Linked DNA regions of Homo sapiens: regions 1, 3 and 4 are each linked to region 2. The links come from fine-mapping of genetic effects on gene expression. A gene starts in region 2. Each other region holds a variant in brackets. All regions are shown on one strand. Distances are from middle to middle. Region 1 has its middle 42 kb from the start of LACTBL1. Region 2 holds the start of KDM1A (lysine demethylase 1A). Region 3 holds the start of MIR3115 (microRNA 3115). Region 4 overlaps LUZP1 (leucine zipper protein 1).

The links. PIP is the estimated chance that this variant, and not a neighbour inherited with it, causes the effect.
Region 1: its variant is the best candidate, but not a certain one, in a credible set for the expression of KDM1A in whole blood (TOPMed, PIP 0.62).
Region 3: its variant is the best candidate, but not a certain one, in a credible set for the expression of KDM1A in nasal epithelium (TOPMed, PIP 0.62).
Region 4: its variant is the best candidate, but not a certain one, in a credible set for the expression of KDM1A in whole blood (TOPMed, PIP 0.58).

Annotation. Positions count from the first base shown.
Region 1 is chr1:22,926,449-22,934,591 of GRCh38, forward strand. No RefSeq gene overlaps it. Among named protein-coding and RNA genes, the nearest start is that of LACTBL1, 42 kb to the right of the region's middle. RefSeq lists a silencer at 3,930-4,114. The variant A/G (reference allele first, on the strand shown) is at 3,930.
Region 2 is chr1:23,015,772-23,023,894 of GRCh38, forward strand. It overlaps KDM1A (lysine demethylase 1A), which reads left to right and starts at 3,697. Exons shown (of 21, transcript NM_001009999.3): 1 at 3,697-4,176. The coding sequence starts at 3,826. TEX46 (testis expressed 46) reads right to left here and starts at 81. Exons shown (of 3, transcript NM_001242521.2): 1 at 1-81. The coding sequence starts at 2. RefSeq lists enhancers at 3,501-4,188, 4,189-4,874 and a silencer at 3,944-4,013.
Region 3 is chr1:23,036,348-23,044,347 of GRCh38, forward strand. All of the region lies in intron 2 of KDM1A (lysine demethylase 1A), which reads left to right. MIR3115 (microRNA 3115) reads left to right here and starts at 7,958; the gene lies at 7,958-8,000. The variant A/G (reference allele first, on the strand shown) is at 4,044.
Region 4 is chr1:23,104,330-23,112,472 of GRCh38, forward strand. It overlaps LUZP1 (leucine zipper protein 1), which reads right to left. Exons shown (of 4, transcript NM_001395462.2): 2 at 4,693-4,798. Among named protein-coding and RNA genes, the nearest start is that of LUZP1, 60 kb to the right of the region's middle. The variant C/T (reference allele first, on the strand shown) is at 3,997.

The DNA of each region.
Region 1 (8,143 bases), 89 kb before region 2:
CAGTGGTCTGCTCTAAAACTCCGCTATCTCAGGTCCCTCCACACTTGGACACAGAGTTCCACTCACACACACAACAGAAGACACCTGCAAACAGAGAGGGGCAAGCACTCCCAACATAAGCACACACATACAAGCATGTATCCATCCACTGCAGTAAACACACGTACACACAAAGACATACAGCCACAAGTAAACAGATGTGTCTGTTTTGCTAACCAAGAAGTTCCCCAGTGCCGGCACAGTGGCTGACACACAGTAGGCACTTAGAAAATATTTCCAAATAAATCAATACCCTTGTGCTCATTCACCTTCCTACCCACGATGACACATGAACACATGTGCACAGACTCTCATGCATGGAGACATTCAGGGAGGGTTCCATGGACTAAACAGCGGGTTAAGAGCAGTCTTTGGGTTCAGGTATATGACAGTTCAAATCCTGTCTCCATCATTAATGCTGTGTGACACAGGGAAGTCACTTCACTTCTCTAAGCCTCAATGTCATCATCTAGAAAATGGAGATTAATTCATTTTTTTAATTTTTTAGACGGAGTCTCCTCTGTTGCCAAGGCTGGAGTGCAGTGGTGCAATCTCGGCTCACTACAACTTCTGCTTCTCAGGTTCAAACGATTCTCATGCCTTAACCTCCCAAGTAGCTAGGATTACAGGCACACACCACCACACCCGGCTAATCTTTGTTTTTTTGTTTTTTAGTAAAGATGGGGTTTCACCGTGTTGGCCAGGCTGGTCTTGAACTCCTGACCCCAAGTGATCTGCCTACCTCGGCCCCCCAAAGTGCTGGGATTACAAGCATGAGCCACCACACCCAGCCTAATTCATTATTTTCTGAGCAAATATTTATTGGCTGCCCATAAGCGATGGTCAGTTCACCAGGTACTGGAAATAGAGCAGTGAGCAAAACAGACAAAAACGCTTGCACACACAGAGCTCATGTCCTACTAGGGGCAGATAGGCACTTAAACAATCAAACACAATATATTAGGTGGGGAGGAGGCCACGAAAAAATTAGCAGGAAAGGCTTTGGGGAGTTCTTGAGCGGGATTGCAATTTTAAAATAGACAGAATGGACACAGAAGAGCACATAATCTAAGATCCCGTTTGTATGAAGATCAAGAAGAGTTCATCAATGGTGATAGAATTCATAAGAATAGTTACTTCTGGGAAGTGTGGAGTGGAACCTTACAGAGGGGCTGGAAATGTTCTACTTCTTGACCTAGTTGGTGGTTGCACAGGTACAGGCATACGTAAAAAAGAAAAAAAAAACAGGCACAAAGATTAGTGCACCAGACACATTTTTGTACATTATCCCTCAGTTTACAAAAACAGGATGGTCAGGGAAGGTCTCATTGAGAAGATGACATATGAACAAAGAAATGACTGAAGGGGGCCAGGTATGGTGGCTTGCACCTGTAATCCTAGCACTTTGGGCGGCCAAGGCGGGTGGATCACTTGAGGCCAAGTGTTTGAGACCAGCCTAGCCAACTTGACGAAATCCCATCTCTATTAAAAGTAGAAAAATTAGCTGGATGTGGTAGGCATGCCTGTGATCCCAGCTACTGAGGAGACTGAGGCAGGAGAATCACCTGAACCCGGGAGGTGGAGGTTGCAGTGAGCTGAGATAGCACCACTGCACTCCAGCCTGGGCAACAGAGCAAGACTCTGTCTCAAAAAAAAAAAAAAAAAAAAAGAAATGGCTGAAAGGGTGAGGGAGCAAGCGAGTGGCTCACCGGGGAAGTGCTTTCCAGACAGAGGGGACAGCAGGAGCAAAGGCCCTGAGGCCAGAGGATGCCTGGAGTGCTCAAGGATCCGCAAAGAGGCCAGGATGCCTGGAGCAGAAAGAATAAGGGGGAGAGTATGGAGAGCTGGGGTCCTCTGTGGACCATGAGGGGAACTTGCACTTTTCTCCGCATGAGATGAAAGCTTGTGGAGTGTCTGAGAGCACCAGTGCCGTGATCTGACTTTTAAAAGGATTGCTCTGATTGCCTTGCAGAATGATGGTGGGGGGATGTATCAGTCAGGATTCTCCAGAGAAACAAAACCGGTACGATATACATTAAAAGATTTATTTCAAGGAATTGACTTACCCAAATCAGCTAGCACATCCAGAATCCGTTGGGTGGACCAGCAGGCTGGAATCTCTCAGGCAGGAGCTGATGCTGCAGTACAGAGGCAGAATTTCTCCTTCCTTAGGGAAACCTCAATTTTGTTCTTAAGGCGCCTTTTGCTGATTGGATGAGGCCCACCCAAATTACTGAGGATAATCTCCTTTACTTAAAGTCCACTGACTGTAGATGTGAGCTACATCTACAAATACCTTCACAGCAACACCTGGATTAGTGTTTGAATTATTGGGTTCTACAGCTTAGCCAAGATGACACAGAAAACCAACCATCACGGGGAGCCAGGGGAGAAGCAGGGAGACAGTTAGGATATAACGGTAATAACCCTAGAGGGAGAGGAGAGTGGCTTGGAACAGGGCAGCAGGAGCAGAAGTGGTGAAAAGCGATGGGTTCCAGGCACAGTATGAAGGTCAAGCCAGCAGGATTTGCTGATGGATTGGATGTGGGTGTGAGAGAAACGGGACCAAAAAGTCCTCCAAAGTGTCTGACCTGAGCAACAGGAAACATGGAGCTGCCACTAACTAAAATGAGGCAGACTGCAGGAGGAGCCGGTTTAGGGGAAGATGGAGAATTCCATTTTAGACATAAGTTAGAGATGCCTCTTAAACATCAAGCAGGCAATTGAATATATGAGTCTGGAGGCAGAGGAGTAAATCTGGAGTCTGGGATTTAGCCAGATGAGTCTGGCAAAGCCAGAGCGGAACCAAGGAGATAAGAGTAAATGCGAGGGTGACAATAGCGGCCGGGCGCGGGCTCACGCTGTAATCCCTGCCCTTTAGGAGGCCGAGGCAGGCGGATCACCTGAGGTCAGGAGTTCAAGACCGGCCTGGCCAACACGGCGAAACCCCATCTCTACTAAAAATACAAAAATTAGCCAGGCGTGGTGGCGTGCACCTGTAATCCCAGCTACTTGGGAGGCTGAGGCAGGAGAATCGCTTGAACCTGGGAGGCGGAGGTTGCAGTGAGCCAAGATCATGCCACTACACTCCAGCCTGGGTTACAGAGTGAAACTCTGTCTCAAAAAAAAAAAAAAATGAGTGACAATAGCAATACACCTTGGGGCCAAAGGTAGGTACAGAGCGCAAGGCAGCATGACGGATGAGGACAAGGCAAAGGTGTGGGACCAGTGCATTTGTTATTGGGGTGCAGGGGGAGATTGTTGGAAAGAGGAAGCTGGAGGAAGTGACTTAGGAATATGAGAGGTAGTAGTTGGAAATCGGGGTCCTTAAAATTAAGATGATTGAGAGGCTGCTGTTGTTAAGTCAAGGGAATGACCACAGGACACAGGAGGTAGGATAGATGGCAAGCAAGGAGCTCAAGGAACCCAGGGGCAGGGTGTCAGCAGCATCATCCTAGATGGTTATTAAAAGCACCAAGAATTCAGACCCAGCCAGGCGTGGTGACTCACACCTGTAATCTCAGCACTTTGGGAGACCGAGGGGGGCAGATCATTTGAGCCCAGGAGTTCAAGACCAGCCTGGGCAACATGGCAAAACCTCATCTCTACCAAAAAAACAAACAAAAAAAAAAAACACCAAGACAAAAAATTAGCCAGGTGTGGTGGTGTGCACCTGTAGTCCCAGCTACTCGGGAGGCTCAGGTAGGAGGAGGAGGCAGGAAGGGCAGGGGGGTGGAAAGTCTCCCTGATGGCCTGAGAGTCAAGCTGGGAGTGCTAACCCTCCACCTTGCAAGGCCTTCGTGAGGGCTAAATAGGCCCACACTATGTAGGGAGGGCTAAATAGGGCTAATGGGTGGCCACAGTGCCCAGCAGACAGCCTGGCACATAGT[A/G]AAGGCTCTGTAAGCGCTACTCCCTGTGACCCCCTAGAAGCAGCCCTGCACTGACAGTGGGGGATGGGAGGCGGGGCAGGGATGGAGGCTGAGTTTGGCCTTTTTTCCATGGAGCCGTTCTGCCCCCTGGGGGATGGGGCAGGCAATGGCCGGAGCTGAGCCCCAGAGAGAAGTATTTTATAATATCCTGGGGTAGGTGGGGAGCGGTGGGTATTTGACTCCCTGCCCCCGCCCCTACCCTGACTGGGAGCCAGGCCAATGTGTGAGGAGCTAGAGATACAGTGATGGGGCAGGAAGCAGAGAAGGTCGAATCAAAGATTATTCCCCTATCAGCTGCCCTGGGTACCCCTTTCAAAGGCCCCACTTCTGACTTATTAATTAATAATACTGGTTGGGCCCGGTGGCTTACACCTGTAATCCCAGCACTTCGGGAGGCCAAGGCAGGAGCATCACTTGAGGCCAGGAGTTCAAGACCGGCCTGGGCAATGTGGTGAAACCCTGTCTCTACAGAAATTTTTAAAAATGAGAAATAATAGTAATAATAATGTATGCCAGCTCCAGGCTACTGGCCTCAGAATTTCTCTACATGAAGAACTCGGGAGCAGCCAGTCACTGGGGTGAAGAACTAGGAGACTGGTCTTGCAGTTGGAGTTACCTAGCCAGGGTGCTGTTTGTCTTCAGATGGCGAGTTTGTTGGAGGCAGTCTGGGGAGGGTCAGCCAATGGACCCCGCCAACCATGACACCTCCATCATATTTCATCACTGAATGTTATGACCACCTAGATGGTTACTACCAGGGTGGACTATTTCAGGTTTAATAACCAACTTCCGACTGTAGTTACTGGATGCTGGTTGACATTCCTGTTTAAGTTAAGAAGGTAAGATAAAAAGTGAGGCCGGGTGTGGTGGCTCACGCCTGTAATCCCAGCACTTTGGGAGGCCAAGGCAGACAGATCACGAGATCAAGAGATCGAGACCATCCTGGCCAACATGGTGAAACCCTGTCTCTACTGAAAATACAAAAATTAGCCGGGCATGATGGCGCGCGCCTGTAGTCCCAGCTACTCGAGAGGCTGAGGCAGAAGAATTGCTTGAACCCAGGAAGCGGAGGTTGCAGTGAGCTGAGATCGTGTCACTGCACTATAGCCTGGCAACAGAGCAAGACTCTGTCTCAAAAAAAAAAAAAAAAAAACATAAAAAGTGAAATAGGCCAGGTGCAATGGCTCATGCCTGTAGTCTCAATATTTCGGGAGGCCAAAGCAGGAGGATAGCTTGAGCCCAGGAGTTTGAGACCAGCCTGGGAAACATAGTGGGACCCTATCTCTACCAAAAAAAAAAAAAAAAAAAAAAAAAACATTTTTTTTAATTAACTGGGCATGGTGACATGTGCCTGTAATCCCAGCTACTCAGGAGACTGAGGTGGGAGGATCATGTGAGCCCAGGTCAAGGCTGCAAGGAGCCATGATCGTGCCACTGCACTCCAGCCTGGGCGACAGGCTAAGACCCTGTCTCAAAAAAAAAGTGAAACAATAAAGATTATGTTGGAACTTCATTCATTCCTCAGTGACATAAGTGATTTCTATTACAGAATTTAATTTTTATTTACTTATTTATTTATTTTGAGACAGAGTCTCACCTGTAGCCCAGGCTGGAGTACAGTGGTGCAATCTCGCTCACTGCTACCTCCGCCTCCCGGGGCCCCGTTCAAGCAATTCTCCTGCCTCAGCCTCCCTAGTAGCTGGGATTACAGGCACGTGTCACCTTCCCAGCTAATTTTTGTATTTTTAGTAGAGACGGGGTTTCACCATGTTGGCCAGGCTGGTCTTGAACTCCTGACCTCGTGATCCACCCCCCTCGGCCTCCCAAAGTGCTGGGATTACAGGCATGAGCCACCGCACCCGGCCTAGAATTTAATTTTTAAAGATGACATTAACAACTGGCTCCCAAAATTCCTGGAAATGTACCAGTTGGCTCTCAATATCCAGTGTGAACTATCTCTCATGCAACACCGGGCTGTTCTCCCATTTCACAATGGTGGAAACTGAGGCTCACAGAGATGGGGTATCTCAAGCGCTGAAGGTCAAGCTGAATGTGGCCTGGTTGGGGCAACACCCAGGTACATTTTGCTCTTACGCTGAGTTCTTTCAACTGTTTCCTAGATTTTCAAACTCCCTTCTCAGAAAATTCCAGCATCTTCTCTCCCCATGTCTTCTCTGCATCCCTAGAGCTCTTCAGTGCGATACACAGAATTTCTTCTTCCTCCTCCTCCCTCTTAGAAACCAAATTTCTGGCAAACGCAGCCTGAGGCTGAATCCTTCTTCGCAGCTTTACAGGGTCACTAACTCTGGAGTGAGCCTCAGGGGCCATGAAGGAGCCCCTGGGCCCAAGGGAGAATGACAGGTGCCCAGCCCAGCCAGCACACACTCAGGTGACCCAATAAACCCATCTTCAGTTCACACTCCTAAATCCCACAAGGATTGGTACAGAGAGTTATAGAGACCTAGAGACCTGTGTTGGGATCCCACTGATAAACTTGTGACCTTGGCAAGTCAGCTCACTTCTCTGAGCAAAATGGGGTTTCTAATCCCCACCCTCGGGATTGCTATGACAATTATCTAACAGCTGCCTTCCTTCTTTCCCCAGTGTCCTTAAATGGTGTGATTCACTGGGTGCCAGGGGCCCCTCACTTATCCCCAATGTCTGGAATTGCACCATTAAAGGGTCATATCTTGGGTTTTTAGCACTGCCTTCTTTCATCTGTTCTTTTTCAATCCTACCACTCCTGGAGAAATAGCTGATAAATCCTGCGCACCCTTAGGAGTGAGTTGATCCAGGCTTCCTCCCTGCCCGAGGCCCTGGGGTCTTCCCCTTCACCATCTCTCTTCCTCCCCCAGGTGGGAAGGGGCTGAAGCCTGACCTCCCAGCTGGAGGCCACAGCCAGAGTCCTTGGCTTGGGTCTTCCCTCCACGGAGTCTTAATCTCCCCAGGTGGGGAAAGGAATCCTAACCCCTTGCTTTTCCTCTTCCCCTGCAGGGCCCCCAGGTTTTCTGAAGGGCTCCTTTTCTTTTCTGTCTTTTTTTTTTCTTCTTTTTTTTTTTTTTGTTTTTTTTTTTGAGACGGAGTCTCACTCTGTCACCCAGGTTGAAGCAGTGGCGCGATCTCGACTCACTACAACTGCCACCTCCCAGGTTCAAGCAATTCTCCTGCCTCAGCCTCTCAAGTAGCTGGGATACGCCCAGTGGGAGGATCGCTTAAGCTCAGGAGTCTGAGACCAGCTGGGCAACATAGTGAGACTGTCTCTACAAAAAAAAAGAAAAGAAAAGAAAAGAAAAAATAGCAGGGTGTGGTGGCACATGTCTATGGTCCCAGCTACTTGGGAGGCTGAGGCGGGAGGACTGTTTGAGCCCAGGAGGTCATGAGGCTGCAGTGAGCTGTGCACCAGTGCACTCCAACCTCAGCAACAGAGTAAGGCCTTGTCTCAAAAAAAAGCAGAAACAAAAAATCAGATTTACATGTTGTTTGAAACAAAAATTACATAGCTTAAAAATATTCAAAAACCTACCACATCTATGTCTTGGCAGGAAAAAGAAAAAAATATTCAAAAACCACTAGAATCCGTTTCACTAGTGATGAGATGTTTGCTAAGGACACTTCCAGCTCTAAGTCTTAGAATTTCTGCATTCAGACTGGGAGTGGTGGCTCATGCCTGTAATCTCAGCACTTTGGGAGGCCGAGGCAGGTGGATCACCTGAGGTCAGGAGTTCAAGTCAAGCCTGGCCAACATGGTGAAACCCTGTCTCTACTAAAAATACAAAAAATTAGCTGTGCGTGGTGGCATGCACCTGTAATCCCAGCTACTCGAGAGGCTGCGGCAGGAGGTTGAACTTAAACCTGGGAGGCAGAGGTTGCAGTGAGCCGAGATCATGCTATTGCATTCCAGCCTGGGCAACAAGAGTAAAACTCCATCTCAAAAAAAAAAAAAAAAAAAATCTGCATTCATAAAAGAAAGACTGTCAGGTCACAGGAAAGGGAGGGAGAATATTGCAGATGCTCTTGGAAGGATGGGGCAGGGCAGGTGAACCTCTTGTCCATGGCTACTTGAGTAGTAGATTCTGGAAGAATCAAAGAGCTTCCAGCTGTGTGACCTCGAACAAATTGCTGAACCTTCCTGGATCTCAGTTTCCTCTCCCTTGACACATGGGTGTATATTCCCT
Region 2 (8,123 bases):
ATGAGCTATCTACAATAGTCAAATTCATAGAGGCAAAGAGTAGAATGGTGGCTGCCAGGGTCTGGAAGGAGGGGCAAATGTAGTCATTGTTTAATGTATACAGAATTTTGCAAGATGAAAATAATTCTGGAGATTGTTTATGCAACAATGTGAATGCATCTAACACTACTAAACAGTATACTCAAAATGGTTAGGATCATAAATTTTATGTTATGTGTATTTTATCACAATAAAAACATCTGATATGAATTAGTTATTTCTGGGGAAAAAACGGGTAAGTGCCACCACATCTGGCTAATTTTTGTATTTTTAGTAGAGACGGGGTTTCACCATTGTTGGCCAGGCTGGTCTCCTATTCCTGAACTCAGGTGATCCACCCGCCTCGGCCACCCAAAGTGCTGGGATTACAGGCATGAGCCACCACACCCGGCCAGGAATTCTTTATGTAAAAATATCAGTTTTAGTGGCTGTGATATTCCAATATAGAATCATGCCTTGCTAGGACCATGCCTCACTGAACGATGGGATACATTCTGAGAAAAGCGCCATTAGGCAATTTCATTGTTGTGTGAACATCATAGAGCATACTTAACACAAACCTAAATGGTATAGCCTACTACACACCTAGGCTATATGGTATAGTGTATTGTTAATAGGCTACAAACCTGTATGGCATGTTACTGTACTGAATACTGTAGCAATTCTGTCTAAACATAGAAAAGGTAGAAAAGGTATGGTAAAAATGTGTTATATAATTTTATGGGAACACTATCTCATATGCAGTCTGTTGTTGATGGAAACATTGTTATGCGGTGTATGATTGTATCAAATTGGTTACCACTTGTTGGGGCTTTTTAAAATTTTTATTGTTTTAGAGACAGGGTCTTGCTCTGTTGCCCAGGCTGGAGTGCAGTGGCGTGACCATAGCTCACTGTAGCCTTAAACTCCTGGGCTCAAGCAATCCTTCCACCTCGGCTTCCCAAAATGCTGGCATTACAGATGCAAGTCACTGTGCCTGGCCTTTGTTGGGTTTTTAGGTTAGTTCTCCTTTATCGTCATTACGTATAACCTGAGATACACAGTGTTGAAGTTAAATCTGTACACATACTGAATCTTTCCCTAGAATGCTTTCCTGAAAGTAGAATTACTTGGTCAAAGGGTATGTATGTTTTTAACATCTAATTTCAAGTTTTATCAAACTATTAAATGTGCAAACAAGTCAGATAGAACTACAGGATTTAAAACAAGCTCCAATCCACTGCCTCACCTCTTTCCACCGTCAAGTTCCAAGCCTTAGAGACAACCAATTCCAACTTTTTTAGCTGTTTCTTCTGTATTTACCTTGATATTTCTAAATAGTATGCTTATATTATTTTTTGATTTCTCAATTTTGACATTATGTATTTTATATATATATATATATATATATATATATATATATATATATATATATATATATATATATATACTTTTTTTGAGACGGAGTCTCGCTCTGTCGCCCAGGCTGGAGTGCAGCGGCGCGATCTCGGCTCACTGCTACCTCCGCCTCCTGGGTTCACGCCATTCTCCTGCCTCGGCCTCCGAGTAGCTGGGACTACAGGCGCCCGCCACCATGCCCGGCCAGTTTTTTTGTATTTTTAGTAGAGACGGGGTTTCACCGTGTTAGCCACGACGGTCTTGATCTCCTGACCTCGTGATCTGCCCGCCTCGGCCTCCCAAAGTGCTGGGATTACAGGCATGAGCCACCGCGCCTGGCCAACATTATGTATTATATTTTTATGGTGAAAAATAATTTAGCTCCCAAGCAGCACCTCCCCCAACAACCTCCCTACTTCCCTAAATCCTTAAAACCTTCTCATCTTTCTCCCCACAAACTTTCTTTTTTCTCCATTCTCTTAATGTAATTCTATCACTTTGGTTAAAACAATATTCACTGCTCGGCGGGGCGCGGTGGCTCACACCTGTAATCCCTGCACTTTGGGAGGCCGAGGTGGGAGGATCACTTGAGGTCAGGAGTTGGAGACAAGCCTAGCCAACATGGCGAAACCCTGTTTCTACTAAAAATACAAAAATTAGCCAGGCATGGTGGCACACGCCTGTAATCCCAGCTACTGGGGAGGCTGAGGCAGGAGAATCGCTTGAACTTGGGAGGCAGAGGTTGCATTGAGTCAAGATTGCACCCCTGCACTCCAGCCTGGGCAACAGAGCAAGACTCTGTCTCAAAAAAAAAAAGAAGAAACAAACAAACAAAAGAACAGAAAAAATAAATAAAACAATATTCACTGCTTACGTTTTTATGGTCATGTTAATACAGTTCACAGCTGAGCCATATGTTGTACTATGATTATATTTTCTTTCTTTTTCTTTTCTCTTTTTTTTTAGAAACGCAGTTTCACTATGTTGCTCAGGCTGGACTTGAATGAACTCCTAGGCTCAAGTGATTCTCCCACCTCAGTCTCTCGAGCAGCTGGTACTACAAGTGCGTGCCACGCCACTCGGATACATTTTCTTTCTTGCATAGCTTTTACTTTTTTTCCTTTCTACATTTGATTGCCTTTTTGTCTGTTTGCTTAGTTTTTTACAAAAAACAACTTTACTGAAGTACTACAGTTACATAAAACATACCTGTTTTACATGGATAGTTCATAGAGTTTTGACAAATATATACACCTATGTAACCATCACCCTAATCAAGATATAAAACATTTCCATCACCCCCAGCAAGTTCTTTCTTGTTCTTTTGCAGTCAACCCCCGACCCCCATCTCAGGCAAGGGCTGATTGGAGCCTATTACTGGAGATTAGTTTTACCAGTTCTTGAACTTCATGTAAATGGAATAATTTTTTGACAATTTCACTTCGAAGAGACAGACTATTAAAAAGACAATTGTTTGTGTAATAAGTACACGCATGCTAAAAGTACACGACCTGTTCCAGTTTTGGGTTAGCAAGGGATTCCTCGAAAAATTAAAAGAATAAACCGCTACTATCATTATTAGAAAGAATTAACCTGGAGTAGAAAGAGGTGTTATGTGGATGGGGATGGGGGACATGAAGGATGGGGGACATGGGGGATGGGGGACATGGGGGATGGGAGAAGCGCAAGACATGGAGTGCGAATGAGGTTGGGGTCCAGCCAGAAGGAAAAGCATGAACAAAGGCTTGGAGACAAGAGCAATTCCGTCTGGACTCAAACCTGGATTTCGTAACTTGTCTCCATTTTACTACCATCGAAACTGCTGTGCTCTCCAAGTTTTTTGCCCAGTCCAAGCAGGGCAATTATGAATAAGTAAGACGCTCTACCAACATATTTCAGTGTTTTCCCCCATTAGACTGTAAGTTCTTTGAAAGCTAGAACTTCATAATGTAACCCTTGTTACGTAGTAGGCAAGCATTAATAAATACTGGTTGAATTAACGAATAATTGGGTGAGTGAATGAACGAACGCACGCATGCAAACCCGAAAGTCCCTGGAGGAAATGGTCACCTTCGGAGGTTTAGTCTGGCCCAGAAGCCCTAAGACCACGGACTGTGCCAGGTCCCACTCCAAACGCCGGGGAGACGCTCTAGGCAAGCTACACGTTCTTTGCTGCGGTGCCACTCTAGCCGCGAGAACGCCGCTCTATGGCTGCGGGGGAGGGGCGGGGCTCGTGGGTGTCTCCGACCCTTTTTGTCCCGGCGCGGCGGGAGCGCGCTTGGCGCGTGCGTACGCGACGGCGGTTGGCGGCGCGCGGGCAGCGTGAAGCGAGGCGAGGCAAGGCTTTTCGGACCCACGGAGCGACAGAGCGAGCGGCCCCTACGGCCGTCGGCGGCCCGGCGGCCCGAGATGTTATCTGGGAAGAAGGCGGCAGCCGCGGCGGCGGCGGCTGCAGCGGCAGCAACCGGGACGGAGGCTGGCCCTGGGACAGCAGGCGGCTCCGAGAACGGGTCTGAGGTGGCCGCGCAGCCCGCGGGCCTGTCGGGCCCAGCCGAGGTCGGGCCGGGGGCGGTGGGGGAGCGCACACCCCGCAAGAAAGAGCCTCCGCGGGCCTCGCCCCCCGGGGGCCTGGCGGAACCGCCGGGGTCCGCAGGGCCTCAGGCCGGCCCTACTGTCGTGCCTGGGTCTGCGACCCCCATGGAAACTGGAATAGCAGAGACTCCGGAGGGGCGTCGGACCAGCCGGCGCAAGCGGGCGAAGGTAAGGCTCGACCCTTCCCTCAAACGACACCGCCTGGTGCCGAGCTTCCCCGAGGCTTCTCCGCCCTCCCCCGCCGCCGCCGGGTCTTGGGCCCTGCGACCACTCAGACCTCCCCTTGTATCGCTGCGCACGCCACGTCCCCTCTAGCTGGACGGGTGGGGTGAGAAAGGAAAAGTCTTTGCCGGTGTTGACTGCGGTCTTTGTGCTGGGTCCCGAGCGACGTGGGAAGGGGCATCGATGATTGCTGGGAGGGGTATTTTATTCCTTAGGTCTTTCTTGCACACCTTTTCATTTTCTTGACTGGAAAATGGCTCCCTGACGTGGGGTTACGGTTGGCGTTCTTGGAGACCTCACTTGTTTGTTCACAGATAGGTCTGGAAGCTGTTGGGCGATATTGATGGCGTTTCAGCTGGGTGCACGAGGGGGCTGTAGGTTGATGCTGAAGAAATCGCCTTAGCCGGGGAGATGAAAAGAAAGGGTCGTTTTTGCTTTTGTTTTTGTTTGAGCAAAACCCTGCTGTGTGGTAGGAGTTCTAGTCTTTTTTTTTTTCTTTTTTAAAATCCTCTCAGCGATCTTTTGGCGCAGAATTTTGCAGATGAGGAAGCTGCTGATTGAGAGAGCAAATAATAGTCAAAATGCAAATATATGGGAAGAAAAGATTTGACTCCAAACAGTATATACAGACAGTGACTGCCTCAAATGTCTGTGTCCTAGATGCTATATTCAGCGTGTCACCAACATTACTTTTTTTTGTTGTTGTTAAATATCAACGGGCAGGTATTGCTAGCCCTATTTTAGGAATGAGTAAACTGAGGCACACAATTTAAGCAACTTGCCTAAAGTCACAAAGCTAAATAAGTGATGGAAGTGGAATGTAATTCCCACATTCATGTTGTTACAGGGTATCATCAGCCCTTGAAACAAAGGACCACATGGGACACTGTGTGCAGGGCACTGGGGCAGTATTAGGGCGCAGACTTTAGACTTGGGCCTTTTCTGGAGATTTAATGGTCGGTCTAGTTGGAAAAAACAACCTGGATATATATGTGCGTGTAGTCAACATTTAAATAAAAATTTGCAGATTATATAATTTATGCCTGAAAAAATTGTCTACATAATTTTTAAGTGGGAATACCAAGTCAGTGTGTATGGGGAGCTTCTTGAGATGAGTATTACCCAGTCTGAGAGCTCTCATATTTATCTGCCTACTTGAGCCAACTCTCTAAAGTATAACCAGTGCTGGATGAAAGACCGTTTTGGAGGCAAGACTTTCTGGAGCTTTTACCAAAGCATGGGTTAGAAAAGCACAGAGGTTGGTGACACCAGCCCTCAGAAATGAAATAAAGGGCAGAAGTCAAGAGTGTTATTTTACGATTTCAATAGACAGGTGGCCAGAAGCCACGTATAAGATGTTTTTAAAAACAGATTTATTGGCTGGGCACAGTGGCTCACTCCTGTAATCCCTGCACTTTGGGAGGCCAAGGCGGGTGGATCACCTGTGGTCAGGAGTTCGAGACCAGCCTGGCCAACATGATGAAACCCCCGTCTCTACTAAAAATACAAAAAATTAGCCGGGCGTGGTGGCGGGCGCCTGTAATCCCAGCTACTCCGGAGGCTGAGTTAGGGAGAATTGCTTGAACCCGGGAGGCAGAGGTTGCAGTGAGCCCAGATCGTGCCACTGCACTTCAGCCTGGGCAACAAGAGCGAAACTGTCTAAAAGCAAACAAAAAAACAGGCTTATTGGGATAATGCATGTATAATAATATTCACCATTTTAAAATGTATGATTCAGTGGTTTTTAGCATATTTACAAGATTGTACAGCCAACACCACAATTGATTTTAGAACCTTTTCATCATCCCCAAAGACATCTGTATCATTAGCAGTCACTCCCCAGTCCTCCCTACCCCCAGTCCCTGGCAACCACTAATCTACTCTTTGTCTATGGATTTGTCTATTCTGAACATTTTATATAAAATCTTATGTAGCCTTTTGTATTTGGCTTTAGCATGTTTTCAGGGTTCATTCACGTTGTAGTGCTTTCATTCAGTACTTGATAACTCTTTATGGCTGAATAATATTCCATTGTATGGATATACCAAATTTGGTTTACCCATTCATCATTTGACGCACATTGGGGTTTGTTTCCAAGTCTTGGCTATTTTACATAATGCTGCTGTGAACATTAATGTACAGTTTATTTTGTGAATATGTTTTCAGTTCTCTTTGGGTGTGGGCCTAGGAATTCCTGGGTTTTATGTTAATTCTAGGTTTTACTTTTGAGGTATAGCCAAACAGTTTCCCATAGCAGCTGCACCATTTTACATTCCCATTAGTAAATATATGAGGGTTCCAGTTTCTCCAATGTTCTTCTTCGTTTTTTTTTTTTTGTTGTTGTTGTTTTTGAGATGGGGTTTCGCTTTTGTTGCCCAGGCTGGAGTGCAGTGGCATGACCTCGGCTCACTGCAACATCCGCCTCCAAGGTTCAAGTGATTCTCCTGCCTCAGCCTCCCGAGTAGCTGGGATTATAGGCATGCACCACCATGCCCGGCTAACTTTGTATTGTGTTTTTAGTAGAGATGGGGTTTCTCCATGTTGGTCAGGCTGTTTCAAACTCCTGACCTCAAGGTGATCTGCCCACCTCGGCCTCCCAAAGTGCTGGGATTACAGGCATGAGCCACTGCGCCTGGCCTTCTTCTTCTTTTTTTTTTTTTTTTTTTTTTTTGCTGAGACAGTCTCTCTCTGTCACCACCCAGGCTGGAGTGCAGTGATGTGATCTCGGCTTACTACAGCCTCCTCCTCCTGGGTTCAAGCGATTCTCCTGCCTTAGCCAGCCGAGTAGCTGGGATTACAGGCACCTGCCACCACCTCTGGCCAGTTTTTGTATTTTTAGTAGAGACAGGGTTTCACCATGTTGGCCAGGATGGTCTTAAACTCCTGGCCTCAAGCCATCCACCCACATCGGCCTCCCAAAGTGCTGGGATTACAGGTGGAGCCACCTTGTTGAGCCTCCATATCCTTCTTGACATTTAATATTGTTTGTCTTTTACTGTAGCCATCCTATTGGGGGTAAAGTGGTATCTCATTGTGGTTTTGATATGCAGTTCCCTAATGACTAATGATGTTGGGCATCTTTTCATGTGTTTATTAGCCATTTTTATATTTTTGTTGAAATGACTATTCAAATCCTTGGCTCATTTTTAAAAATTGAGTTGTCTTCATCATTTTCTAGTAAGAGTTCTTTACATATTCTGGTTACGGAAATTTGTGATTTTGATGAGATCCAATTTATTCTTTTGCTCCCTTTACTTCTGGTGTTATATCTAATAAACCATTGCCTTATCCAATGTCACGAGGATTTACTCCTATGTTTTCTTCTAAGAGTTTTTTAGTTTTAGCTCTTGCATTTATGTCGATGATCTTTTCTCAGTTAATTTTTGTATATGGTGTGAGGTAGGGGTTCAGTTTCATTATTTTGCATGTTGTCCCAGCACAGTTTATTGAAGACTATTCTTTCTCTCAGCGAATAGTTGGCACCCTCATTGATTAACTATAAATCTAAGAGTTTATTTCTGGACTCTCAACTCTATTCCATTGATCTATTATATATTTCCGTCCATTCCAGTACCACACTATCCTGATTACTTTAGTTTCATAATAAATTTTGAAATTAGGAAGTGTTCCTCAACTTTGTTCTTCTTTTGCAAGATTATTTTGGCTGTTCTGAATGCTTTGCATTTCCATATGAATTTTAGGACCAGCTTGTCAGTTTCTGCAAAAAGGGCTGCTGGGATTCTGATTGTGATTGTGTTGAATCTGCAGATTGTAAGTTTGGGGCACACTATTAGATTTTACTGTTATTTTTTAAGCTATCTCCTACAAGAAAGATTTCTTTTTTTAGCTAACTGATTAATTTTTTGGAGGCAGGTTCTCACTCTGTCACCCAT
Region 3 (8,000 bases), 21 kb after region 2:
AGTGTAAAATAAATGCCTGAAATCATTTGAATTCTCATTTTATGAAGTATGATGCATACATTCAGAAAATAGGCATAGGGTTAGTTTTCTTGCCACGCCCCCCCCCTCCCCCGCCCCCTCACCACTCCAGCCTTTTTGGAACACATTTCGGTGTTCTGATTTGGACCTATGCTCCAAAATACCTTACTGGAGGGCTGAGGGAAGAAAGTGACAAGCTGAAAAGGTAATTCAACAGAATTCTTATGTTCTTATATTTTGAGGCATTATGAATGGATCAAGATAAATACGCTATACAACACACGGTCCCCACTCTCAGATAATTTATAGCCTAGTATGAGACACAAGTGTAGACATAAATGCATAATGGAAAGCAAAAAACTCTTAAGTGTGATATCAATATAAAAATTCTAGAGGCATATAGAGGTAGGAAGGGTGAAGAGTAGAGAATTGGTAGTATGGAGGGCAAATTTTTTAAAAAATAGGCATTTTCTACAAAAAAATAAGATTCCCCCAAATGTAGTAGTTCCTCATTGACTTTATTCTACAAATATTATTGTACGATGATAATTATTTTGTCACAGTCACAGTGCTGGATTCTAAGGGTTCAAAGAGAAAGAGTACATCCACCTGCAAAGAATTTGTAGTCCAGTGGCCTGGTGTGGTGCATGCCTGTAATCCCAGCACTTAGGGAGGCCGAGGCAAGGGGATCACTTGAGGCCAGGAGTTTGAGACCAGCCCAGCCAACATGGTGAAACCCCATCTCCACTAAAAAAAATATATATACACACACACACACACACACACAAATTAGCCGGGAGTGGTGGCTTATGTCTGTAATCTCAGCTACTCAGGAGGCTGAGGTACCAGAATCACTTGAACCGGAGAGGCAGAGGTTGCAGTGAGCTGGGATCGTACCACTGCACTCCAGCCTGGGTGATAGAGTGAGACCCTGTCTCAAAAAAAAAAAAAAAAAAAGTGCAATTCAGTTTAGGGTTACAGATGTTAGTAAGTAGCTACAATGAAGAAACTACAATAGAAATGTATAGAAAGTATGGTGAGAACTCAGAAGTTTTTATTTTTTTAATTGATAAATAAGATTGTATTTATCATGTACAGCGTGATGTTTTGAAGTATAAATACATTGCAGAATGACCAAATTTAGCTGATAAACATGCATTACCTCACATGGTTATCATTTTTGTGGTGAGAACACTTACCCACTTTCTTGGTATTTTTCAAGAATACAATGTATTGTGATTAACAATAGTCACCATGTTGTATAATAGCTCTCTCAGAAGCTGTTTTTAAATAATGTTTCTCCCTAAAATTGGGTTTTGGAAATTTTGTGTTAAACATGAAAGGATGAAGCAGTTTTAGATCCTTGATTTTTAACTATTTACTGCTTTTGGTCGATAAGAACCCTTGAATCAGATGCTACAAGTTTATGTTTGGTCTTTGAGAGATTGACCTGCTTTTCTTAATGATGTCATTTCATTGATTTGTTGTACTTTTTATTAAGGCAAAATAGTAATTTGTTTAGCTGATCACCTTTATTTTTATAATTTATTTGAATTCTTTTTGTTGCCATCATTTATTGGGTCTGATCATGTTGTAATAGAAGAACAAGATTTGTAAGGATTTTCTCGTCTACAAAATGAGACTTGTTATGAGAATCAAATGAGAAAATGCGAAACCCACCTTTATGTATAAACATCTTGTATTTATTAAGCAGAGTTGATTGAACAAAGAATAGGGTGGATTGGTGTTTTATTTAGGAAAAAAATCAGGGCAGCTTTAGACCAGACAGACACACATACTGTGTTACTTTGGGAAAGTGTTTGTGGTGGGCCATTTTCAGTAATGAGTCGATTATGAAATAGATAACTTTTTAAGCATCTGGAACTGTTTGTGTGTGTGTGTGTGTGTGTGTGTGTGTGTGTGTGTAAAACTTAAATCTTGATAATAATCTTTTAAGTTAAATCATGAGAATGACAGACTTTGGGACTTTCTAACATAGTTTTTTTTTCTTTCCTTAAGAGAATAATATAATTGAAATTCTTGCATCGGCTGTTGAGTTATAAGAAATGTTTTGTAAGCTTTGTTATTAACCAGACACACCTTAAGCTTGGTAGTTGGACACATAACATCTGAATTGTAAGCTTTCTCTGGAACATTTTGAAAAGTGAACACAAACCAAGACTGCAGCAAAATAAGTAAGGATCAGGAAAATTTCTACTATGGAATGTGGAGGGAAATAATATGTGAAAAAGTAAATTCTTTCCATTGGCTTCTAAAGCTTTGCATTTCTCCCTAGCTTGTAGGGCCTTTTACTTTCTTTTGATAAGATCCTTGCTACTACCCAGTGGAAGTCTTCAAGCACATATCTGTGGTGTTATTGTTCTTTCAGCAGTTCAGTGGAAGTTCCAGGCAAGCTCCTGCTTCAAGCAAAACAATTTTTCTTTTTTTCTAAACCTTAAGAAGGCTGTTTTACTTCAGTATTTTACATGATACTGTAACCCAGGGATTGCTATTCTAGTTGGAACTCATAATTTCATTTTGACTGTTGCTCAGGCTGGTCTTGAACTCCTTGTTGTAAGTGATCCTCCTGACTTGGTCTCTCCCAAAGTGCTGGGATTACAGGTGTGAGCCACTGTCAATTCCTTTTTGAAACTGTGACTTTCCTTATGTTCATGAGATTAATCATGCATTTATGACTGCTTCAAATTATCTGAGCCTATTATTACTTCCATGCTATTTTGAAGTCTTTTAGCCCCATTCTTACTTCTGAGTTCTATTGTTTAATTTCCAACCATCTTTAGAACATTTCCATTTAATTGTATTAGCCAGTCTCCCAAATTTCCCATTTTGTTTGTAGCATTACTAGTCTTCTGAACTTAAAACCCTAGAGTCATCCTGAAAGTTCTTTATCCCTTTTACCAAGTCTGTTGTAAAGTCATGCATCTTACTGTGCAGTCTTTTTCATTTTTTAGGCCTTACCCATTTTTACTGTCACCTTTTTCTAGTGAATTTCAACTTGTATGTAAATTATTTCAATAGCCTTTGAATTGGATCTCCTTTATCTAGGTTTTCCCTCTAATCCATCTCGTACAAAGTGGCCAGATTAGTTTAACTAAAATAGCATTTGTTTTGTTGTCTTTGTGCCAAAGATCACACACTTTTCCTTCATTACTACTAAAATCACGTTCAGGTTTGGGTACTGGAAAGGGATCATTTTACCAATCCACTTGATCTCCCACTGCTTTTTCAGACCATCTCCTTCTGAAAGTAGGTACCGAGCAGTCCTCTGCACATACCATGTCTGTGCTTTTCTCTTTATCTTTGTAAATGATCTGGACCATAGTCGTGGTTTCACTGCCTCGCAGTCTATCCAGATCTCTCGGGAATTGTTCTGAAAGCTTCCCTGATTCTCCAAGACTGTGTCAGCTTCTCGTTTCTTAACAACAAAAGTTTCCTTGTAGGTATTTTTCATCTTTTCTCAACTAGATTATAAGCTTTTTGAAAACAGAGAGTCTACCTGTTCTACTTTTGTATTTGTGCTTTGCAGTTTTGGGGCAGATACGGTAAACACTGATTATTAAATAAGAAACTCAATTAGTGCGTTAATACGGTAGAGACATATATTCCAAGTTGGCTTTAACTTTTGAAATGTTTCTTTCACCTGCTAATTTATTAAATTCAATTGAAATCAGTAGGTTGGCCTTCACTTTTATTCCATAAATTTGGCCATTTTGGTAAATTTATCTTCTATTGGAAAATCGTTGCTTCCTAGATTTAGAAGTTTCTTAAAATGTTTGTAATTTGAATGTGATTCCAAGAAACTAGTCAAAATGTGAATCTGTGTTTCTGGAAACAACCAACCAGTGATTTTCACCTCCTTGTTTGTTTGCCAGATAAAAGCATTTGAAAGTCAACATAGACTTCCTTTTAAGATGTTGGAAGAGTGATCTCTTGAGTATTTGAATTCAGATGAGAAAACATTCAGTAATGTGATTATAACTACAACACTTCACGCTTCAAGAAGG[A/G]CTCTTAGATCTGAAGGTCTAGAAGACAACTGAAAGGCTGTTATGTAAGATAAATCAAAAAGATCTTCATTTTCAATTTGGAGTAGCTGTGTACAAATAAGCTGTATGAAGAGTCTCTACTTTAGGCCGATTGTGGTGGCTCACGCTCATAATCCTGTTGCTTTGAGAGGCTGAAGTGGGAGGCTAGGAGTTCAAAAACAGCCTGGGCAACATATCGAGAACTCGTCTCTACAAAAAAAAAAAAAAAATTAGCCAGGTATGGTGGTACATGCCTGTAGTCCTAGCTACTCAGGAGGCTGAGGCAAGAGGATCCCTTGAGCTCAGGAGTTCAAGGTTACAGTGAACTGTGATTGCACCACTGTACTCCACCCTGGGCGACAGAGCAAGACCTTGTCTCTAAAAATAATTAAAAAATTAAAAAGAGTCTCTGCTTCAAGCTTGAGGACTATTTTGTAGGTTTGGTGGTTTGGGATAAAAACAAAAGGGAGTTTCTTGTGTAGTGGTGCCAAAATCAAGGTGATATTACAAAGTTGCTTTTGAATATTTTCATTTTCTGTTTTGAATTTGCACTCATGGAAAGCTAACAGCGCTACTTGCCTGCTGTTAATGTGTCCTGAGCCACTATCAGAAACAGAGTCCTAGGCTGGAAAGACCCAAAGAGCAGATGAATAAGGGATTTTATATATATCATAATCAGAGACTACTTGGATGAAAAGTTAGCTGCAAGCAGTGTTGTGTATGTGCTGTTTTTAAGAAAATGTTCAAGAATTGGTCTATAATATACTGCTAGTAAAGATGATCTTTCAGTTGTCTTTGGAGAAGTAGGCATCTTCAAAATACTCTCAAGTATGATTGGAGTGAAAATAATAACTTCATTCTTTATTTCCAAGCAAGTTAAACCATTATCAAGAGATAAATAACTTGTTTCTTAATTTAATTTTAAGCACTTTTAAATTTTGTTTTCCATCATTTCTTATGTGGTACCTTCTGCTTGGTTTCTTTCTACTCCTCTGCTTAAATAATACTTTTGAGTTTCTTTTCTTGCTTTTTTTTTTTTTTTTTTTTTTTTGGAGACCGAGTCTTGCTGTGTTGCCCAGGCTGGAGTGCAGTGGTGCAATCTCGGCTCACTGCAACCTCCACCTCCCGAGTTCAAGCGATTCTCCTGCCTCAGCCTCCTGAGTAGCTGGGATTACAGGTGCATACCATAGCGCCTGGCTAATTTTTGTATTTTTAGTAGAGACAGCGTTTCACCATGTTGGTCAGGCTGGTCTTGAACTCCTGACCTCGTGATCCGCCCACCTCGGCCTCCCAAAGTGCTGGGATTACAGGCGTGAGCCACTGTGCCCAGCCTGGAGTTTCATTTCTTTTTTGACATTTTGTTGTTATGGGATCCCTTTTAAAAATCTTTGCAGGGTATTGAATATTTTCTACATTTTCCTGCATTTTTTTAAATTAAAAAAAATCTTTTTAAGAGGTTTTTTAATTCCTTTCTTCAAAACCAGAAGACAAAAAAGACTGCCTCGTTGCCCTTTTGTCCTGGTTAACCTATTGAGTACGCAAGTCAGGGGTAAGAAATCCATCTTTTTTTGTGAATCAAAGCACCATTGATTCACACACAAAAATCAGTCAAGAGCTACCTGTAGCTTAAATTAGTGAGTTTATTGTATGACATGTATTATAGTTGGAAAAGAAGGGAAATGAGAGGAATAGGAAAGATAAAGTAATTCAGGCTTAGGCTAGCTTCAAAGTGTGTGTTTTTTGTTTTGTCGGTTTTTTGCTGTTTTTATCTAAGTTTTTAGTGGTGAGATACCTTCATGACAAGAGACTGTCACTTTTATTTTTGCCAAGTCAGAAACATAATTTGAACGATAACAGCTGTATTATTCCTAATCTTAAGTGTGATTCTTGGAAACTATTTGTTTCATTGTTCTGAGTCCCTCCCTGCTCCCTTTCTTGCCCAAATAAAATTCAGTTTTCTGATCCAGCTTGGTTTTATTTGGAACCAAACGAAACAATGGCAACATTTTTTAAAAATCTATGAAATATATTATTTTTTTTTTTTTTTTTTTTTTTTTTTTTTGAGACGGAGTCTCGCTCTGTCGCCCAGGCTGGAGTGCAGTGGCGGGATCTCGGCTCACTGCAAGCTCCGCCTCCCGGGTTCACGCCATTCTCCTGCCTCAGCCTCCGAAGTAGCTGGGACTACAGGCGCCCGCCACTACTCCCGGCTAATTTTTTGTATTTTTAGTAGAGACGGGGTTTCACCGTTTTAGCCGGGATGGTCTCGATCTCCTGACCTCGTGATCCGCCCGCCTCGGCCTCCCAAAGTGCTGGGATTACAGGCGTGAGCCACCGCGCCCGGCCTATTATTATTATTTTGAGATGGAGTCTTGCTCTGTCGCCCAGGCTGGAGTGCGATGGTGTGATCTTGACTCACTGCAGCCTCTGCCCCCCAGGTTCAAGTGATTCTCCTGCCTCAGCCTCCCGAGTAGCTGGGATTACAGGCGAGCACCACCACACCTGGCTAACTTTTGTGTTTTTAGTAGAAATAAGGTTTCACCAAGTTGGCTAGGCTGGTCTTGAACTCCTGACCTCAAGTGATCTGCCTGCCTCAGCCTCCCAAAGTGATGGGATTACAGGCCTGAGCCACTGCACCCGGCTCTACAAAATATTTTTTATGAATAAAGCCAGAATTTACTAAGAGTGAATATATCTGATTTTAAGTTTATAGTAGAGTTTAAAATGTAGGACCTATATTTTCAAGATAAGTTTGCAGATTGGATTTAGTAACCCGATCGTCTCTTCATGATTGTATGCCTTTTTCCAAGGGCTGTAAATAGGTATACCTTGGGCCTTGTCTGAGAAGCATAACCTTCTTGAACCTAAAGGACCCTTCAGACGAGAGCTTAGTAAAATAAGTTTAGAATGAGATTCTATTCTACCTTCATAACAGAGCATGTATCTTCTAGCAACACATTCTAATATCATTGTCAGAAATAATTTCTTATATCTAAGTATCTTTTTATTCTCTTTGTTGTTCCCTTCTAACTCAAATGGTGGAATAATCAATCTGCTTTCTTATTGGGGTACGTATTTTAAAATAAACTTTAATGAAGCTTGTCTGAGTTTATCTAGATCATTGGGAGGTGGTATTTTATGTCTTCCAAAGATCACACTCATTTTCCTATAGTGTACCAGGTGACTAGAAGCTTAAGAGCATCATAGCATCTGTCTTGATGATAGATTTTGGAAGAGTTCAGAAGACAATCTATTCTTTATCAGATTGAATTTTCAAGCTTTGATTCTTTTCTTGAAGTTACTTCTACATATTAATCAGTGAGGAAAATTTCTTAACAAAGCTTATTATGTAGCATGAAGTAGAAGATTCAAGATCTTGCCTGCCTTTCTCTGTGTTACCACAAGTGTGTGTTTATCTACAGTACTTGGCACACACACACACACAGTGTCTTATTGTGTGTTCTTTAGTTTTATTTAGGAAGCACTGGCATATTTAACTGTACTAGTGTCTACTGTGTATAGTAAATGAAACTTCTTTGGAGACTGAGTCTTTTAATTATACTCCTTGCTTTGAAGAGAAGGAGATAATTTTTCATTAAAATTAGAAAGTTAAACGGATATTAAGTTGATGCTGAATTGCAATGCCAGATTCTAGAGTCTATGTCAGCTCCATTTTCAGTCTAGCAGCCGTTAGTAAAAGACACTCGGAATCCATTTTCCCCCATCCAGACTATTAATATTAAATAAGACTGACAGCAAGGATTTAGTGATTAGAAATACTATGTACTTTGTTCCACTGCCTTTCAACAAGAATCAACATGTAAAGTTGAAACTTCCTGACCAGAATTTGGAAGACTATGATGTAATTCCCTGGGCCTTGATTCCAGAAGAAGGAGCTCTCTGAATATGGGTTTACTAGTTGGTGGTGAATTCATGAGTCGC
Region 4 (8,143 bases), 89 kb after region 2:
GTGCGCCACCACGCCCAGCTAATTTTTCTATTTTTAGTAGAGACAGGTTTCACTATGTTGCCAACACTGGTCTTGAACTCCTGACCTCAAGTGATCCACAAGCCTCGGCCTCCCAAAGTGCTGGGATTACAGGTGTGAGCCACCACGCCTGGCCCAATGGTAAACATCTTTTAATGCATCTGTTCTCTGAGGCCTTTTCAAACCATCCTTCCCCGCAAGAGAAATGCACCATCCTAAATTCTGTAGATGCTTCTATCACTATATCCATGATACTTAAAATATCTGTCATCCTCTGCTGGGCTCTGAGAGCAGGGACTGTGTTATCTTCATTTTTCAGTCCTGGGCACTGAATACAGTGACAGGGGCAAGGTAGGAACCTTATAAATGTTTTGTAAATAAATTAATGTAATAGTTTTATTGTATTCTGTACTGGCCAAATTTACATAAAGGGGACTATTTTCAGATCTAGGCACTACATTCTAGGAAAGATGCTTAGCCTTTATGCCAGAGGCTGAAATGCAGGTGCCAAAGAGATCAGGCCAATGATTTAAATGAGTTAAAGGGCCTAGAAGGACTATGGCTAAGAGGGGCTATGCCCTACTTTTATATATAATCTCTTAAATGTAGCCAATGAATTCAGATTTCAAAAAAGAGGAAATAAAAAGAATACCACTGTATAGTCCCTCCAAAACATACATGCCTGCAAGTGGATATGGGAAGCAAATTTGCAACCTGTATTGGACAAAGGGATTAAGTAAGAGAGTAACACAATCAGAACTGCAGTTTTTGAAAGGCCATTCTAGCAGGATAAACTAGGGTGCTATTGTAATAGTCAAGGCAAGAGATGGGATAAGGGCCTGAACCAGGACAGTAGCAATGGGGTAAAAGGGTGGGATGGATGAAAGATGACCTGGTCTGCCCAGTTCTAATAATGAAGTCCAAGATTGCATGAACGAATCTGATAGCCACAGTACCAATTTGTAGGTTCATACTGGCTTTGTTTCCAAATAAACTGTTAAATCTCATTTTTAATAATTGAAATATGGGGCTTAATTCTTTTGCAGGCAACGTGATACAATGATTAAAGTTTACGAACTCTGAAGCCAGGCAGCCTAAGTTCAAACCCTGACTTTATTAGCTACTAGCTGTGTGACCTTGGATAAGTCATTTGAATTCTCTATGCTTCAATACCTATAAGGTTATGGTATGTGTAAATAAGTTAATGCAAGAATTGCTTAGACTAGTACCTGGTCTATAGTAAGTGTCATGTAAGTTTCAGCTTAAATTATTATTTATTATTTTTGGATTTCAACTTCTTAGTTTCAATCCCTTGACTAAATATTCTCTACACTGTCTAGCCTGCAAACATTCGCTATTTAAGTCTCATAGGCATGTCTTTTCTATATCTTCATCCAAATTGATGTTCAAAAACAAAATATAACCAAAATCATTAAAAACACCTCCTATAGATTAACACTGATCTATTACAATTCCTGAGTGCAACTATTCAAGAAGCTCCAAAGCCAGGTAAAATTTTTTTTTTTGTCTTGGGATCACATGAGAAAACATTAAATACCTAATGTTAGCACTTAAGACACATTACCTTTGTAGCACATTCCAATCCTCCAGCGACCTAGGAATCTTTCCAAAAATGAAATGCTCTGATATATATATCAAACTGCTATATGGTAATTATCTCTGGATAATGTGCTTTTTTTCTGTTTTTGCTTATGTCTATTCTCTAATATTTTTATACTGAACTTGTACCGATCGTTTAAATAAAATCATGGCAAGGCTTAAAGAAAAAAAAGAATTGTTATCAGCTAGCATGATTTATTCTTAGTGAACACAAGCTGGCTTCTAGGGATCACTGTTCTCATTCTTTGATCAATCAATTTTAGAATTTTACCAGAGATCACTGTCAAGTTTCCAATGACATCCTCAAACCCCTGTGACCCAGACGTTAACTCCAAATAAATCAAACACCTCTCAAATGGGCACAGTGGCTCATGCCTATAATCCTAGCGCACTTTGGGAGGCTGAGGCAGGCAGACAGCTTGAGCCCAGGAGTTCAAGACCAGCCTCGGCAACATGGTGAAACCCTTTCTCTACAAAAAATACAAAATTTAGCTGGGAGTGGTGGCATGCACCTGTAGTCCCAGCTTCTCAGGAGGCTAAGGTGGGAGGATCAACTGAGCCTGGGAGGTCGAAGCTACAATGAGCTGAGATCACACCACTATACTCCAGCCTGTGTGACAGAGTGAGACCCTGTCTCAAAAAACAAAACCAAAAATTTAAATTAAAAAAAAATCAAACAGGTCTATGGGGAGAATTAGAATTTGAGAGCCTTCAAAGTATGTCTAGAAGCCATTGCTTTCTGGTTAGCCACCACTACCACCCAGGTCCAACCTACCATCATCCCTGCCCTGGACTACTGATTACTGCAAAAGCTTCCTAACTTGTCTCCCTGCTCCCATCAGTGTCCATCCTTCCCCACCCTCCACAGTCTGTTCTCCCACAACAACCAGAGTAGGCCTTTTAAAACATCAGTCAGATCAAGTCACTCCTCTGCTCTAAGCTCTTTAGTGCACCTCACTTAGAATACAATGCACTCCAAAGGTGTCACATGGCTGTAAGGCCCTACATGATCTAGGTCCCATCACTCATCTGCTGCTCCTTCCCTACTACTCCAATCCAGCCACACGGCCTCCTTATGGGTCCTTATACATGACCAGTTACACTCATCCCTCAGAGATTTTATACCTGCTGTTCCCTCTGCCTAGGATGCTTTTCCCCCAGATATCTCCCTAGCTGGACTCCTCACTTCTTTTAGATCTTAGCTTAAAATATCACCTCATCAGAGGCCTTCCTTGATTGCTGTACATAAAGGAGCAATCCCTCAGCTCCCCACCACTATCACCTTACGCTGCTTTTTTGTCTTCTTAGCATGTACTATCTAGTGGATGTTATTTGTCTACTCACCTGTTTATTTATTTATATCTAATTATTCATTTTTATCTGTTTCCACCCATTAGAATATAATCCTTGAGAGAAAGGACTTTTTCTATTTTGTTTAATGCAGTATACTTAGTTCCGATAACTAAAGCGTGTAGTAAGTGGCCATTTTTTGTCATCAGAACATTAGCCCCAGTATATAGCAAAATATTTTATGTGTAATAGGTATGTGTAGGCTGGGTGCAGTGGCTCACACTTATAATCCCAGCACTCTGGGAGGCCAAGGTGGGCAAATCACCTGAGGTCAGGAGTTCAAGACCAGCCTGGCCAACATGGTGAAACCCTGTCTCTACAAAAAATACAAAAATTAGCCCAGGCGTGGTGGCACACACCTGTAATCCCAGCTACTCGGGAGGCTGAGACAGGAGAATCGCTTGAGCCCAGGAGGAGGAGGTTTGCAGAGGCAGTGAGCCAAGATCGCACCAGTGCACTCCAGCCTCGGCAACAGAGCAAGACTACGCCTTGCAAAAAATAAAAAAATACAGGGCAAGAGTTTGCCTTGAATTTTTCCACTCCTTCGAGAAGAGTTCTGTATTATCCCTAACTACACCTATTTCCTCAGAGGGGTTGACATGAGAGCAAGAGGCTTTGTTAAGATTCCTTTCCTATGCCCAGTCACTGCTATGACGAGAACCCATTTCCCACTCATTCTGAGCTACCCTATTGCTCTACTTTCCTAGGGAAGCTTTCTCTAACTATCATCCAGCTATCAGGAGCAACCAAGACCACCAGGTCTCTTGGCCACTGACCGTTCAAGTTCTCACTTCTATCTCTTCTATTTCATTAGTGCTCTCCTCTGCCTTAGCCAACACCAACCAATAAAATATTGGCACATAAAATCCATAAATGGCTAGGAAAAGAACCTAATTGTTGATCAAAAGGTTTTGTATTTTGCTTTGCTTTTCCAAGGTTAAATCAGTCACAGCCTCAACCAAAAAGTAACTTTCTTAAAAGGGAAACATTATAGTGTAATGAAAATAA[C/T]CCACTAGGGTGGTGGCTCATGCCTGTAATCCCAGCACTTTGGGAGACTAAGGCAGGAGGACTGCTTTAGCCCAGCAGTTTGAGACCAGCCTGGACAATACAGAGACCCAGTCTCTACAAAAAAATTAGCTGGGCATGGTGGTGCACACCTGTAGTCCCAGTTACTAGGGAGGCTGAGGTGGGAGGATCACCTGAGCCCAGGAAGTCAAGGCTGCAGTGAGCCATGATCACGCCACCGCCCTCCAGCCTGGGCAATGGGAGCGAAACCCAGTCTCAGAAAAAAAGGAAAGAAAATAATGCAGGTTTGAAACCTAGTTCTACTACTTGTGTGAACTTGGAAGAGTTATTTAACCTCTTTAAGCTTGTTTCCTTGTGGTGATGACAACAGTACTTACCTCACAGGGTTGGTAGGGCGATAACATGTCCAACAGGACTGCGCCCGACATAGAGTAAATATTCAATAAATGGTAGCTACTTCTTAAGGGTGGCCTAATTCTTACGGTTGCTAACTTCATGCAAGGATTTTTCACCCTCATCAGGTTGGTTGGTTAAGTACTCAGCATAGTATTTGGTTCATAATAGGCCATCACAAATACTGACTTTCCTCCCCACTTCCAGTAGTGGCAAAATTATAGTGGCTTCAGAAACCACCCAATTCTATTGGTACACCCAGGTTTCACTGTACAACATACTTACCATGTAGGTAATTCAAGCTTTCCGTCAATACTTCCGGCGGCTCTCCCTATGCTTGCTGTTTTGGAAACAGTCACTCACTCTCTTTCAAAGGCAGTTGTCTCTTGACCTGGATAGAATATAAACAGAATGGAAGAGATAGGTAATGCATGAATCATACCAAGACTGAGGTGACCCAGAGGGCTGTCCCAAAGACTTTCACATACAATTCACTGTCAGCAAGGGGCCAAGGTAAGATCTGCATCTAGATCCTGACACTAAAGGAACCTGGCTAAGCTGGCTATGTCTCTCTCAGGAAAGTCAAGAAAGAATTTGGCTGTAGGAGACTTCCCCTTTCCTATAAGATGATATGGTCCTAGGGTAGAACCCACTGTCTTTGCTTAAATTAAAACACCCGAACATTCCTCAACAGTCTAAAAATGTACATGACATCTTACAGCTAGGAAGCATCTCAGAAATCAGCTACAGGTTGAGCATCCCTGATCTGAAAATCCCAAATTCAAAATGCTCCAAAATCTGAAATGTTTTGAGTGCCCACATGACTCCACAAGTGGAAAATTCCATACCTGATCTCATCTGATAGGTCGCAGTCAAAATACAGGCACACAATACTCAGGTTTATTCAATGTCCCCTGGGGAAAAATAAAATTACCTTCAGGCTATATGTATAAGGTGTATAGGAAACATAAACGAATTTCATGTTTAGACTTGGGTCTTATCCCAAGACATGTCACTGTATACATGCAAATATTTTTTTTAAAAATCTGAAATCTAAAACACTTCTGGTCCCAGGGATTTCGGATAAGGGGATACTCAACCTTCAGTTAAATGTCCTTGTTTTACAGAAGGAAACTAAAACTTAGAAAGGGTGAGTCACACAATTATTTAGCAGAAAAGCAAGGATTCTACTAAAAATAAGATGTTCTAGAAGATAGGAAAAAAACATCTGCGGAGTATTTACCAACCCTGAGCACTATGCTTTATGTTTTATATAAGACAATAAGAAGATAATGTTACCTCTACTTTACAGATAAAGAATTTAAGTTTCAAGAAGTGACTTGTCCAAGGTCTTACAGCTTGTTATTAAATGACAGAGTTTAAACTCAAGTCTGTCTGACTTTGAAAGTCCCTTCACCATGCTGGCTCTCATTTTGTTGCCCTCTAGACTCGGTCCTCAAAAGAGCCCTGAACCACCCAATATCAATTAAAACTAAAAATAGAGCTTTTCTTTCTGCAAACTTACCCTCCAGTTTTGAAACAAGCAGGCTTCTACAGGAGAGTTGAAAAGCCTACCATCCCATTGAATCTTACCCCTAAAATTAGAGAAGAGCTACTACAGATGGAAGATCTGGGTCAAACTTCTTGTGTTATCTTACTCTTGAGGAAAATGGAAAGGTAGCTTCTAAGCTAGTGGTAAACCTAAAGCTTTTGTACATGATCTTACAAACTATCCTCCCTTCTTTCATCACAACTGCCTCCCTTACACATCCCTGCAAGCCACCTTGTGACTGCCTTCCAAGACTATTGGTCCCTTTAATCCAACTTCCACACCTCCACCAAAACATGCACACATGCACACATACCTGCACCTGCGCGCATGCATGAACGCGCACACATACACACACACACACACACACACACACACACCCATCCCTGCCTCTATCTTCCCAGAGAGCAAGGCGGCTAGAATTACAATGGACAAATAATGAGAGTTTTTTAAAAACAGCTTAAAAGATGAGGGGAACAGTAGTAACTCAAGCCTCAAGAGAATAAAATTTGAAAAGAATTTTTTTTTGTAGTGATGGGGTCACACTATGTCACCCAGGCTGGTCTGAAACTCGTGACCTCAAGCAATCTTCACACCTTGGCCTCCCAAAGAGAAGAGTTACTGATAGTATCGGCCAGGCACGGTGACTCACGCCTGTAATCCCAGCACTTTGGGCGGCCAAGGCGGGCAGATCACCTGAGGTCAGGAGTTCAAGACAACCCTGGCCAATATGGTGAAACCCCATCTCTACTAAAAATACAAAAATTAGCTGGGCATGGTGACATGTGCCTATAATCCCAGCTACTCAGGAGGCTGAGGCAAGAGAACCTCTTCAAACCAAGAGGCGGAGTTTGTGGTGAGCCCAGATCGCGCCACTGCACTCCAGCCTGGGCGACACAGTGAGACGCTGTCTCAAAAAAAAAAAAAAAAAAAAAGTTACTGATAATAAAAACAGCTAGAAAATAAGTATAAAAAAGGATCTAGGCCAGGCACAGTGGCTCATGCCTATAATCCCAGCACTTTGGGAGGCCAAGGCAGGAGGATTGCTTGAACCCAGGAGTTCAAGAACAGCCTGGACAACAACAAAGCAAGGCCCCCATCTCTACAAAAAAAAAAAAATTTTAATTAGCTGGGCATGGTGATGCACACCTATAGTCCTAGCTACTTGGGAGACTGAGACGGGAGGATCACCTGGAGCCCAGAAGTTTGAGGCTGCTGTGAGCCACAGTTGTCCTACTGCACTCCAGCTTAGATGACAGAGTGACGCTCTATATTTAAAAATAATTTTAAAAACGATCTATACCAAGGCGGCACCCAAGAGATAGCTTAGGTGGATGTGGGGGAAGCTTTAGCTCTCCACCCTCTGCTTTTAAAAAATAATCAATGGAAGTTAAAGTAAGTGTGATTGGTATTCAAATAGTTTTAGGACAGTTCCACAGACTTTCCGTCCTACCCCATCACCACCTGTCTCTTTCCCCCTCCCCACCCACCTTACACACACAACACCCACACACAAACACCGCCCCCCCACACACACACTCATCTTCTTCTGCATAGCCTAAAACCTCTCCTACATAAAAATTCTGAACTCTAAGAAATGGTCACATAAATCTGGTCTATCTCCCCTAAGGTCTCTGCAGCCCTAACAGTGATAGCAGCGCCCCTGCTAAAATCTACTGTCCCAGCACCTACCACCTACTGCCAAATTTGCTGACATGTTACTAAGGCCCAGGGGCTTTTCTCTTCAAAACAAGACAGAATGCACTGCCAAAGGGAAAGAGGAACTCCAGCTAATCCTGATTTGTTTTCAACTGTCTACGTTCTCTCATATTTCTAAGGGGTAGAAGTAAGCAGTAACTGATTTCTTTCTTCTGAATGCCATTTACTTCTTGCTTCCTCAGCGTACTTGCCCTCTGTCCCCAAAACAAGAGGATGACTGTAAACATCCTCAAATTCCTTAGTGATGCTGCTTCAGAGAGCTTTCCACCATGACAGATCCATCCTCATCACTTCCCTCAAGCATCTCTTCTGGCACTTATTGTTTCTGTTACTGTTGGTGGTGATAGTGGTGGTAGTATGTGTGTACGTGTCTGTCTGCCTAGAAGCAGAGACTGAAGGATCCTTACAGATCACAGAGTCCAACCACCTCCTTTCCCAGAGGAGCAAGTGGGTCCCAGAGAGGAAAGG